Linked DNA regions of Homo sapiens. The protein of the gene in region 1 interacts with the protein of each later gene in a pairwise test. Each region holds a gene or a part of one and is shown on either strand. Other genes may lie near its edges.

The links. The genes of interacting proteins can lie anywhere in the genome.
Region 2: the proteins of RETREG3 (region 1) and ANKRD46 interact in binary tests that used the Homo sapiens proteins (3 or more experiments, as listed by UniProt).

The regions. Positions count from the first base shown.
Region 1 is NC_000017.11:42,585,359-42,592,386, forward strand, and holds part of RETREG3 (reticulophagy regulator 3), read right to left. Parts: intron 6,805-7,028; coding exon 6,698-6,804; intron 2,507-6,697; coding exon 2,476-2,506; intron 1,534-2,475; coding exon 1,407-1,533; intron 780-1,406; coding exon 695-779; intron 1-694. UniProt on the Homo sapiens protein: Endoplasmic reticulum (ER)-anchored autophagy regulator which exists in an inactive state under basal conditions but is activated following cellular stress.
Region 2 is NC_000008.11:100,521,742-100,528,769, forward strand, and holds part of ANKRD46 (ankyrin repeat domain-containing protein 46), read right to left. Parts: intron 6,263-7,028; coding exon 6,104-6,262; intron 1,031-6,103; coding exon 814-1,030; 3' UTR 1-813.

The DNA of each region.
Region 1 (7,028 bases):
CAAAGTGTGGAACAGATCTGCCCAAGTCTGCCAGTCATCTTCACCAGTCTCCCCTACACATGAAGGAGTCTTTGAGGGCAGGGACTTCTACAGCCACCCACAAAGCCTACTGCAGGGTTGTGCACAGCACAGTATGCTGCTGACAGGCCAAGGGCAGAACCTGGCAATGGGTGTCACTGAGCCATAAATGGAAATTACACAACAAATCATGCGAGGTTTTGATATACAAAAGCCACAGGCATAAGTACTTAGTTCTTCCAGCCCCAAGCAAGCTGAGTACATGCCAACAGGAAGTAACTAAATTTACAAAACTATGCTCCAAGTGGGAAAAAAGTACTCTGGCATAAATAGAACCTAGCAGAGAAACCCCTAAGAGTTATGTTCTGCTGACAATACCCTGGCTCTAAAAATTCTCTCCTTAAACAGGGACAGGCAGTCCTTTATAGTTGGTAATACCAACAATATATGTTAGTGGACCCTCATCAATTTCTGACTTGGTAAGAAATGAACTTTGTATGTGGAGAGCCTGCTAAAGAAGGATATTTTCATGACACTAAACAGGTCATGAAAATATGCAAAGGTCATATCCTAGAGAATTGAAATATAACAGTCCTCTCCCCACACCTAGAGTTAGCCATAGTTGGAAAGCTATGAGCAGGGTATACTTTGTAGGGGAGGTATATGTCATACTTACGCATCAAGTAGGACAGCAGAAGCCCAGGGACGTAGCGGCCCAAGACAGCCAAAAAGGTCAGTATCCCACAGCTCAGCAAGCAGAACTGGGGAATCAAGAAAGAGTATTAAGTTTCTGTCACATGGCAGGGGACTGGGGTGGGTGTGAAGGGTTAGGGTAGAGATATGACAGAAAGACTCTGTAAGTCAAGCATGGACGTGCAGCCACTGTTGCATCCAAAGGTGATTCTGTTTGGGAAGAAAAGGAGCATGTCCCCTTCTATTCAAACTCCTTTTACATGGCTAACCCCATAGGGCTGCACCTTTCCTGCCAAGAAATTGGTTTGAATAGGACTTAGCCAAAAATTCTCTCTGAAAGCAATGTTGGTGGTGGTTTTTTAAGTCAACAGAAACACACACAAAACCCAAAAAAACACAACAACCTATCACATATTTAATATGACACAGAATGTACACAAGAAAGCTTTCTTTCCTATCTTGAAGCAAGAAAACGGCCTCATCTAAGTGGCAACCACACCAAATGAGCAGTCACCAAGCTCCTGTGTTAGTCCTAATGGCTGGTCAGAAGGCCTTTCCTATAGCTTCCTTTTGTCTCTATGAACATCATAGTCTTTACTTTCTTGAATGAAGACACATAGTAAAGGAGCTGTTTCAGTTTAGCATGAACTGAACTGAGAGGCCAGAGATGAAAGTGAAAAAGGGAAGAGTCTTACCTTGCCTGGGTTTTGCTTTTTGAAAAGCAAAACATTCCTTATGAAAATGGTCCCACTAACCCAGACTTCAGCTACATGGTGGCAGAGCTCGGGCACGCTGAGCAACCGAGGGTGCACAAAGCCCCAGCTATGGGAGAGAGAAGGGGGAGCTGTGAAAGGAGGGTGTTGAGGGTCCCCCCATCTTGCTGTGCAGGCAGCCAGTGCTTCCGGTTTTAAATGGGGTTTGGGGAGTGACTAGGCCCAGGTGCTTTGGAGGTGAAGCATGACTTTCTTCTTGGCTCACCAGGTTGAAATCTGAATTTAGGTACAAGGAGGACAAACTTGTTCTGACAACTCCACCCTATGAGCAAGCAGCCCAATCCACGTGTGTAAACCTGTCCCCAGCTCCAAGGCCCTTTGTGCTTAGAAACGTTTTCTTCCTTGCACTCAGACCATTCCAATTCCCTGTGATTGCAATCCAGGGATAAAAGTGAGCATAGTCTGACTGACACCACTGCTGCTAAGGGGGAGGAAATGGTGGATGTGCCCCTTAGAAAGAAAATAAATAAAGCAAAACCAAAATAAACCACAGCAGAGAAAATTCTTTGGATCAAACAAATGGAGTGGATGAACTGAGAAATGAAAGCAGGAGCTGTAAGACACAAGAGGAATCTTTGGCTTTGACTTGCTGATGCCAGGAACCAATGTGTTTTCTGACCGGGAACTTTAAATAGCCAGAGGTCACAGAAAACACTAAATGACCTGGTATAAAAGCCAGGAGACAAATGAAGTTAGCTGCCTTTAAGTTTTCTCACTGGGACTGAATAATGCAGCTGATTCCCTGGCATGTCAGGTTATGGGGCACTGTAATGCTTCTTTTTCAGAAACTTCTCTTGTAAAGATCAGAGGACACAGGCCATCTCAACATATTGCTGCCTGAACTTTAGGATGTGTTAAAATGATCATTTGGAACAGCCTAGGTTCTCAGTTTACACTGTGTGTCCAGAACATGGGGTTAACAACATGTAACCAGAATATTACAAGAGAATGAATCAGAGCAACAAAAAGGGATTTAATTAGTGTTCCATACCTCTCATTGTCTAATGCGTCGGGTCTTGGCACTACAATATTAAAACAAACACCAGCATTAGTTGGTAGGGAAAACTAAACATGAAAATGTTAGGCTGTTGGTCTGACAGCTCAAGTTTTAATAGGTTGGGGAAAAGAAAACAGTAATAGCCGATAAAAAAGGAGACACTGTGTTATACTGCCAGTTAGGGAGCTGCAGACAAGGGAATAATCACTTATGCCTACTCATTTTTCGAGGGGAAGGAAGGGAGGTCCAAATGGACTATTTGAGCCCCCTTCTAATGACCTCAGCTGAAAGCCAAGGTGTACAAGAAAAATGGTCCATCTCACCCCTTGAGTGTGTCTGGGATACCCATACACATCAATCTGTGCCAGGCTACACAAGGTACGTTGTAACAACTCCAACCCTAGAAATCCACCTGTTGTGTTTATTTTTTTTGAGACAGAGTCTTCTCGCTCTGTTGCCCAGCCTGGAGTGCAGTGGCACGATCTTGGCTCACTGCAAGCTCCGCCTCCCATTCTTCTGCCTCAGCCTCCTGAGTAGCTGGGACTACAGGCACCCACCACAATGCCCGGCTAATTTTTTTTTTTTTTGGAGACAGGGTCTTGCTCTGTAGCCCAGGCTGGAGTGCAGTGGCGTGATCTCAGCTCACTCAGCCTCCCGAGTAACTGGGATTACAGGCACACGCCACCATACCTGGCTAATTTTTGTGTTTTTAGTAGAGATGGGGTTTCACCATGTTGGCCAGGCTGCTCTCGAACTCCTCCACCTCCCAAAGTGCTGGCATCACAGGCGTGAGCTACCGTACCCAGCCGAAATCTGCCTGTTCTCTTTATTTTTTTGAGACAGAATCTCACTCTGTCACCCAGGCTGGAATGCAGTGGCACGATCTTGGCTCACTACAACCTCCACCTCTGGTGTTCAAGCAATTCTCCTGCCTCAGCCTCCCAAGTAGCTGGGATTATAGGCACCTGCCACCACGCCTGGCTATTTTTGTGTTTTTAGTAGAGACAGGTTTTTGCTATGTTGGCCAGGCTGGTCTTGAACTCCTGACTTCAGGTGATCCACCCACCATAGCCTCCCTAAAGTGCTGGAATTACAGGTGTGAGCCACCACACCCAGCCTGCCTGTTCTCTTTAAAAAGAGACCCAGAGCTAGGTGTAGTGATGCTCACTTATAGTTCTGCCTCCTTGGGGGGCTGAGGCAGGAGGATCACTTGAGCCCAGGAGTTCAAGTCCATCCTGGGAAACACAGTGAGACCCTGTCTCTAACCAAAAAAAAAAAAAAATGGGGAGACCCATTATCTACCTGAATGATGTATAAGTCTTTTGAGATTCACCAGCCATTAGATAGGCAGATGAACTACACGATTCCTTGAAGTCTCTATAAAATATGATGGGCATGTATTTAAAACCTGTATACTCTGGTTTGAATATCTTGCCAACACTTCAAAATTAACCTGCCTAAAATCTACATCAGTTTTCCTCTCTCACCCCTTCAAACCAACTTTCCTGTCTGCCTTTGCCTGCTAAGTGTAATGCCATTCTGCCACTCTCTTAGCTTTAACCCCCATCCACTTATGTCTTTTATTATACATATATAACAATTATTATTTTCTGAGACAGGTGTCGCCCTGTTGTCTTGGCTGGAGTACAGTGGTGCGATCACGGCTCACTGCAGCCTCAACCTCCAGGGCTCAAGGGATCTTCCCACTTCAGCCTCCCAAGTAGCTGGGGACCACAGGTGCACACCACCATGCCTGGGTAATTTTTTTATTTTTTGTAGAGACAAGGTTTCGCCACGTTGTCCAGGCCGGTCTCAAATTCCTTGGCTCAAGCAATTCTCCTGCCTTGGCCTCCCAAAGTGCTGAGATCACAGGCATGATCCACTGCACCTGGCCCCAACTATTTATGTCTTGATCTTCCTTATTCACAGCTCTCCAGGCCATCCATCATTTGTATTCACTGAGGCCTCTCTGACTACTTCTCACAAAGACACTGCCACAGTCTCCTAACAGGTCATCCTGTTCCACTTTTCCTCCTTCCATGTGGTCCTAAAAATGCTACTAAATTAATCTTTATTATCGGCTGGGCGTGGTGGCCCACGCAGGTAATCCCAGCACTTTGGAAGGCCAAGGCACGCGGATCACTTGAGGTCAGGAGTTCAAGACCAGCCTGGCCAACATGGCGAAACCCCATTTCTACTAAAAATACCAAAAAAATTAGCTGGGCGTAGTGGTGCACGCCTGTCGTCCCAGCTACTCAGGAGACTGAGGCAGGAGAATCATCTGAACCTGGGAGGTGGAGGTTGCAGCGAGCCAAGATCGCGCCACTGCACTCCAGCCTGAGCAACAAAGTGAGATTCTGTCTCAAAAAAAATTTTTTTTACTTAGCTGGGTGTGGTGGTATGCACCTGTAGTCCCAGCTAATTGGGAGACTGAGGTGGGAGGATCACTTAAGCCCAGGGATTTGAGGTTGCAGTGAGCTATGATCATGCCACTGTACTCCAAAACCTGGACAACACAGTGAGACCTAGTTTGTTAAAAAATAAGAATAGGGCTGGGCGCGGTGACTCACGTCTGTAATCCCAGTACTTTGGAAGGCTGAGGCGGGCAGATCATCTGAGGTTGGGAGTTCAAGACCAGCCTGACCAACATGGAGAAACCCCATCTATAGAAAAAATACAAAAATTAGCTGGACATGGTGGCAAGTGCCTATAGTCCCAGCTGCTCAGGTGGCTAAGGTGGGAGAATTGCTGGAGCCCGGAAGGTTGAGGCCACAGTGAGCCATGATTGCGCCACTGCACTCCAGCCTGGGTGACAGACCAAGACTCTGTCTGAAAAAAAAGAATGCGCCAGGTGCGGTGCCTCACGCCTGTAATCCCAGCACTTTGGGAGGCCTAGGCGGGTGGATCACCTGAGGTCAGAAGTTCGAGACCAGCCTGGCCAACATGGTAAAACCCCGTCTCTAACAAAAATACAAAAATTAGCCAGGCATGGTGGTGCGTGCCTGTAATCCCAGCTACTAGCAGGGCTGAAGCAGGAGGATCACTTGAACCTGGGAGGCGGAGGTTGCAGTGAGCCAAGATCATGCCACTGCAGTCCAGCCTGGCCAACAGAGTGAGACTCCGTCTCAAAAGAAAAGAAAAGAAAAGAAACCAACAAAAAACCTAATCCCAACATACTTTCAGTTTTATTTCCTAGCACTCCCTTTAATGAACCTTCATCCTGGCCATATGATCAATTCTCTGATGTCAGGAAATGCTTTGCAACTTCTGGTTCCTCAGACTAATCAAGCCACTGGACTCTCTAGAAACAGACTTTTTTCTCAATCTGTTCAAATCTTTTGCTTTGTTCCACTCTCAGGCTAGGGAAAAAATACATGCTAAGTATACTAATCACATACTGCACTGTGACATCTGTGGTGCTGGTCTATAATTGTCACTTAATTTTTCATTTGTTTATGTATGTATTAGCTTTTTAAAAAGACACCACATGTCATGGTACTTTCTTTTTTTTTTTTTTTGAGACTGAGTTTTGCTCTTGTCACCGAGGCTGGAGTGCAGTGGCACGATCTCGGCTCACTGCAACCTCCGCCTCCCAGGTTCAAGTGATTCTCCTGCCTCAGCCTCCTTAGTGGCTGAGATTACAGGTATGCATCACCATGCCCAGCTAATTTTTTGTATTTTTATTAGACGGGGTTTCATCATGTTGGCCAGGCTGGGCTCGAACTCCTGACCTCAGGTGATCCACCCGCCTCGGACTCCCAAAGTGCAGGGGTTACTAATAGGCGTTAGCCACTGCGCCCGGCCATCATGGTACTTTCTATAAGTCACAATTGCCTAGCCTAGTGTTTTGCAAATGAGCAATGTAAAAGGAATTCCTGAGAGGTACTGCCTCAATAAAGATGCAGTGTCCAATAACGATAATTTATTATTTTTCATTTGAGGACTACTTATTCCTCAGGCCATTATGTTGGCAAAAATAACTCAGGTGGTGAGTACAGATTTCCTGTGCTTAGTAACAATGGGAAGGGCAGAACCCAGCTCTAAGGAACCATAATTGGGGCACAAGCCCTTCAAGTGCCTCCTAAAGCAAATGATTCAGACTTCAAAAGACAGTCCCCAGCTCCATACACCTCCTCATAAACCCCTAATACTAAAGGTACAAATTATAGGAAAGGCCATCTTCAGTTCAGATTGTTCTAAATGCTACCAAACTCACCTTTTATTTCAGGCCAGATTTTGTTCTTCCATTGATCAATACACACAATGATCATCAAGCCAAATGCAAGTAAAAACACAAGACGAAGAGATGTCAGGGCAAAAAACCTACAGAGGAAGAAAAACAGAAGAAAGATCATTTACCTAGTTATCCTAATTTCAGAAAAGGCCACGTGTGTACGATGGGCTCTGTGGTAAACAGACTTGAGGTCTAGCTTTTTTTGTTCTGACACTTAACTAGTTATACACCTAGGGTAAATCATTTAAACCTTCTGGACCTTAACTACTCTACCTATGGGGCAGAGAAAATAATTTGCTGCTGTAAAGGCAGA
Region 2 (7,028 bases), on another chromosome or scaffold:
CAGAATTATTTTTCCCTGCTAACTATTCAGTAGAAAAAGGATTTTCTGACTGTAATTCTGATGAACTGTTATCTTTGATGACTAGGATACTCGGGAAAATTGGAAAGTGAACAAAATGAACTCATTTATTTTTCACAGATATTAACAAGCAAAGCAGTTTACAAAAAGATCAAAAATTATCCTAAAAACAAATAAATATAAGATCAAATCAATTATCTTTGAACAAAATATAGCTCATTTTCAAAAGTTTTGTTTGGTTTGTGACTAGACTTAAAAATACTAAAATAAGCCAAATAGATGCTAACAATACTAATTTGCACACAAGATTTGAAAAAAGTACTTCAAGTTTTATCTCTTATCCCTAGAGAAAGTAAATAAAAAGTGGCTCTTGCAAAAATAAATGAAAACAAAACCACCAACAAAAACTAATCATATAAGATACTGTTTTTCTTTTTGAATACTTCAATTGGTCCTATATTAGGATAAGGTTTTGATAGCAAGGACTTCCTAGCTTCTTCCTTTATCTTCCATTCTCTAGTCACTTCCGTGTTTTTATCAAACAAGGCTACGTGTAGGCTTTCCTACAAAGTCAGGTTGAGTCAGAGGTAGCGTTAGGATGCAATATACTTGATCATAGTATGTAGTTAGTTCAAATGAACACATCATTATCTAAAAGGATTACAATAATTAAAAATGCAAAAAGAACATGTACTGCCCTCACTGCTTTGCGCTAAGAAAAATTCTGAGAAACTGAGAACAAACATTGGAAGCCAGGAAACAGGCAATTAATTGCCTCATCTTCCATGAGCTCCTTTAATGCACCAGTTCAGGCTGGTTTTCCACGAAGGGTAGCACCCCACTCACATAATAAGCAATGCCAAGAGACAGCAAAGCAATGACGAAGATCAACAGCAATACTCTCCAGAAGCCCAGATCCTCCACAAACTCCTGCCACGTGGTTCGGAAGCTGGAGAGGACTCCTTCACCTTGCTGCAGGTTGGGATTGAGGAGTGAATGGCTTTCCATGGCACTGTGGAAGAAGAAAGAGCAAAAAGGGCATTAAAAAAACACAGCAATTCCAAAAACATAAAACCACAGGGCTACTATTTAGAAAAGACCAAATACACACACACACACACACACACACACACACACACACACACATATATATATATACACACTCTTACATGCTTACGTATCTGAACAATATATACTAAACTGTAAATTGCTAAATGGTAATGAGTATGTTTCTCTTGGTTTAGAATTTAGTAAACTCAAGTTAAAAATTCTATTTAAAAGGTCCTGGCTGGGCGTGGTAGCTCATGCCTGTAATCCCGACACTTTTGCAGGCCAAGGAGGGAGGATCACTTGAGCCCAGGAGTTCGGGACCAGCCTGGGTAACATAGCGAGACACCATCTCTATTTTTTTTTAAGGTGTCCTGAGCAGAAGTCTTGAAATAGGTTATGAGTTGTCTCCATCAAGATATTAAACCACAACACATTCTTGTTATGTTAAATTTAGAAGATTCAAAGTGCAGACTCATAATTTAAGAATGTGTTAATACGAATAAGCAGACATGCAGGTGATGACACCTGAAGAGGACAGTCATCTACAAGTCAAGCAGAGAGGCCTTAGAAGAAACCAACTTTGTGACACCTTGATCTCAGACTTCTAGGCCCTAGAACTGAGAAAGTAAATGTCTGTTGGGGGGAGGGGGGAAGATGAGTAAATCTAAAAAGTCACTTATACAGTGTGTGTGAATCTTGAAGTTAAAAGGGAATTTTTATTAATTTAGTTCAATAATCTGACCAATGAAGGAATTCCTTCTTTAATTGTAATTCTCTAATAATGGAAGGTTACTCCTCAGCCTGTTGTACATGTGGACTCGTCTAGTCATCAGAAATTCTTTTTTTTTTTTGGAGACAGAATCTCACTCTGCCGCCCAGGCTGGAATACAGTGATGCGATCTCAGCTCACTGAAACCTCCACCTCCCCAGCTCAAGCAATCCTCCTGCCTCAGCCCCCCAGGTAGCTGGGACTACAGGTGCATGCCACCATGGCTGGCTAATTTTTGTATTTTTGGTAGAGACAGGGTTTCGCCATGTTGCCCAGGCTGGTCTTGAACTCCTGAGTTTAGGTGATCCACCTGCCTTGACCTCCCAAAGTGCTGGGATTACAGGCATGAGCCACCACAGCTGGCCTAGTCATTAGGAATTCTTAATAGTTTCTTCCTATTGGTGTTAGTTCTATCTTGTACAGTAAGACAGAATATGTTCATTTCTCTTCTGCATAAAGGCTAGTCTAGTTGAAAATAAGGTAGTGCAAATACCATAAAAACACTGATTCTGGTTTTCAGAACTTTATCAATGAGAAATACGACTACCACAAAGAGAAACTGCATCTGACTTTGGTACTTGGAAGCACTAAGGGAAGAGCACTCATGGTTATATCACAACATACAGGCCCAATAAGAGGGTATCATTTAGATTAAAGCCACCATAACCATGATCATAGGAATCAACTATCTACTGGTTATCAAAGTTCATTACTATCCTTCCTAACTCCCATAAAACAGTATCTTAGAGTCTCATTCATTATGAACTATGAATAAACATGCAAAACTGACATTTTTTAACCTACAACTTTATTTTACTTCTTGATACCATCAAACAAAAGTCCTTCAGCCTTTACCAACATTAGAGGTCTTCTCTGATCATGGGAAACTGACTTCCTAATGGGCCAGTCTGCTTAACACCCAAACTTTTTTTTTTTTAATAATTAAAACATGTTTATTCTCTGAATAAGAGATGATGTTTTCAGTGGGAATCTACAACACCACAGTAATTTTGGAACACTTGACAGCAAGTTTAAAAATAAGATTAGAACTTTGAGAAGGCCTAAAAGAGTAAAACCACAAATAGATAACACAGTTCTGCAGAGGCTTAGTTTGACCTATGTAAAATTTATTGATTACGAGTTGACATGCCCTTATACATGTTAGGTATAAAATGAAAATTCCATGAGCATTCTCATTGTTCTTCAGAGCTCATGAAGCTCTGCCAATCGGGATATTCTATAAAGACTTTATCCAATGAAATGCTTTCTACTGTCCAGGGAATATCTGATTCTAACATAATGGGGTGTGTGTATAATCTTTTTTTAAAAACGTGATATCTACACTGTCTTTGGGGGGTGTGTTTGCATGTATCTTTTTTAAAAAATGTGATAGCTATACTGTTTTTGTTATCCCATACCTACAAAGTAAAAAGGAATTAAACTTAGAGTTATATGGAGGAGTGGGGAAATATTTTTCATTAACTTGATTTATAGTCCCTTATAAGGCCTGCAGAAGTTGTGCTGTCTTGGGGGAATCCTAAGAGAAATGGAAAATATTATAGTAAATACATTTAAAACCCTGCTTTATCTTCTGCTCTAGAAAAAGCCATTACACAATTATGCCATAATGCCATGTGCTAGCCAATCTCTTTAAACTTTTTCATCTACATTTATTGAGACATAATTCACATCCCATAATATTTACCTTTTGAAACTGTACAATTCAGTGGCTTTTCATATATTCCCCAAATTGTACAACCATCTCTTCTAATTCCAGTACACTTTCAGCACCTCTATAAGAAACTCTGTACCTATTAGCAGTCACTCCCATTGCCCCTTCTCCCAGCTTCTAGTCTACTTTCTCATCTACTTTCTGTCTCTATGGATTTGCTTATTCTGGACATTTCACATAAACAGAATCATGTAATATGTGGCCTTTTGTGCCTGGCTTCTCCAATGTAGCATGTTTTCAAAATTTATCCATGCTGTAGCATGTATCAGTATAATATAATAATATTAGTAATATTCCATTGGATGAACAGATGATGTTTATTCCTTCATCAGCTGATGGATATCTGGGTGGTATCAATGTTTTGGCTATTATGAATAATGCTGCTATGAACATTCATATATAAGTTTTGTGTGGACATATGTTTCAATTTTCTTTGGTATATTCCTAGAAGTGGCACTGCTGGTCAGATGGTAACTCTACGTGTAGCTTTTTGAAGGACTGCCAGACTTTTCCAAAGAAGCTGCTCTACTTTCCATTCCCATCAGCAGTGTATGAGGGTTCCAATTTCTCCACATCCTCCAGAGCACTTGTTATTATCTATCTTTTTAATTGCAGCTATCCTAGTGGGTGTGAAGTGGCATTTCACTATGGTCCTCATTTGCATTTTCCTAATGACATTACCTTTCAACTTTCTGATTTAAGCTTCAACCACTGAATTTCTACCATGACACTGAGGGGTAGGAGTAAGATAGGAAAACTAGGTAATAAAAGTGTTAATAACTCAATTTTTGAAAAACGAGCTTTATACAGTGTTACAATTAATACAAACTCTCATGCTGCAGTGAAATGGCAGGTATGTGAAGGAAGCAGGAGTACTTCCACTGCTCATCCAATGGAATATTATTTTGTACTTATCACTTCTTAGTAAGTAATCACAACTGAGGCAAACTAATGCTAAAAGTATATTTCTAATAAAAGGGTGCCAAGAAACTGGCTATTAACAAAATAAAGATCCTAAAAATATACCAAACAAGAACACATTCTTGGTTGTTTTTCATGGTAAAGAAGCTTAAAGTACTTAATGTTATTTCATAAAAAGATAAAAATAAATTTCAAGTTATCTTAGAGGAAAAAATCTTTAACAAATAATAGTTAACTCAATATTGTTAAAGTGCTTATGCCATTCTGTCAATCCAAAGTACAGAGGAGAGAAAAACAAGGGCTTGCAAATACATCTCTGACTTCTTGATTATCTATTTGTCAGCTTTCAGTGATCACTCAAGAGGAGTATGCACTGTTCCAGAAGTAAAGCTCTTGGATTTCTTTAGGACTGTATTAAAGTGCTTGAAAGTATCTGAACAAAATAGACCTAAGCTTGAGAGTGGAATTAATGGTCCCCAAAGAGCACATCATCTGGCACACGAGAGGAGGAAAGCAAAAATGGGTACAAAGGAATCAAATGAAGGGTAAGCTATGAAAAACAGAGAGGATTTCATTTAGAACTCACAGAAACAATGATCCCAATGGTCTAAGTGGATTATGTGATTCTAAATCCAAGTCCTAGTCCATCAGCTACTAGGTAAACAGCTGATGTGGGCCCTTGCTTATTCTATTTACAACCTACCGAGAATACTGGGAAGAGGCTATGGAAGCTCAGCATCCTTTTTCCTTCACACGTATAATGTGGAAGGCTGAAACTGCATGGTGGTCAACCAGATAATATGCTACTAGAACTAAGTCTGGCCTATTAACTTTACCTGTTGAGCCCAGTGACATCAGGAGAAAAGATGGTGCGCCACCTTTTTGGAGCTCTCTGAACTGCATTCTCCATTGCTTCTAGATGAGAAATGATGAGCTATTCAAGACCCTGTCAGTTACCACATCTTAGCTTCGATTACTCACAGGAATCCAAATTTCATTAGCTCCAACTCATATGAAAGTCACTTTCACTTTCACATTACTGAACTGTGCATGTGTTAAATACTATCTTGCTTTCCCTCTCTTGTTTTCTTGTTTCTCAGCATTCCACTTCCCTACCCTTGAAACTACCTTTCAGTCTTTTCTAAAATTGCCCAAGTTCTTGGCTTTACTTATACTTCTCTTTTTTTTGAAATTCCATTCTTTTTGTGACCTGTACTTAAAATCATCAAGCTCCGGCTTCCTCCCCTCAGATTCATTTGTTACTATTTCTCCTTTGTACTGTCAATACAGCAGGTGGCTAACAGAACATTATGCGCACATGACATGTAGTACTTTCTGTTAATAGCTTCTCAATTGTAATCTGCAGTCATAAGGTCCTATATAAAGTTCAAGTTGCACTTAAAAGCAAATGAATATTAAAGTTCACAAAGTTAACCATAAATCCACATACTTAAAGTGACTTTCCCCTTAAAAAATCGTATTATCTTGCTGGGTGTGGCTACATGTGCCTATAGTCCCAGCTAGTCAGGAGGCTGAGGCAGGAAGAATGCTTGAGCCCAGGAGTTCAAGGAATGAGTAATACAGTGAGAAAAAAAAAGTTGTATCTCCAGTACCTTTCACTCTCAGCTGTTTGCATGGTCTCCAGTTTCGAGTGGGTTCCTCTGTTAAATCCTTTCACCTCCTGTTCTTCCAAAGATTCCAGCAATCGGATGACATCTTTATTTACTCCTCTGCGCTTTGCCAGAACTAAAGGGGTAGCACCTTGATGATTGCTAAAAAAAAAAAAAAAAAAAAAAGTTTATAAAAATAAAGAAGCCATCATAGCAGTTATACTACATTGTCAGTTCCATTTTTAGTACCCACTTATATAGATCTCAGTGAAGAAAGAATGGGCCCAATTAGGGCCTACCCTAGGGCTGTGGGGAACTAAAGGAGTATTTGGCTCACTACAACTCTTCCACCATGAGCCTTGACCATCTGGCTGCAATCAGATGTTGACTGATGGGATTTTTGCACAGTTCATCACAGAGGCCGTTATCCTGTTAACCAAACACGTCCCCCACCTCCAGACCCCATCCTCACACTGAATGTCTCCTCAACAGCAGATTATGGTAGAAGTAATAGCCGTGTGCCTCTATTTTTTTCTGAATTGTACTATAGAAAGTGTTTATGAAGAACAAATCACCAAGGGGAAAAAAAGGATGGGTCCAGTTTAACTCAAAAGTAAAACCCAGAGCTGAGCCAAACATCCAGTGTAGCTGAATTTTGAATTAACCCTTGTTTTTCTTTTTTTTTTTTTTTTTACTTCCAGGGAAAAGAAAAAAGAGAACATATAGTCAAAAAAGTGGATAAATCTAGTTCTAGATTCATTCTTATTTGATATTTACATTTTATGAGACAAGTACTTTTTTTAAAAAAGTCTAAGAAAAAAATGTCAAATAAGCTGCTTCGGTTCACGCAGCTATTTAGCGCTAATAATAGGTTAGAACCCCAATCACATTAAATCCTGCAGTCAATTCCTACCCCATTTTGTCCTGC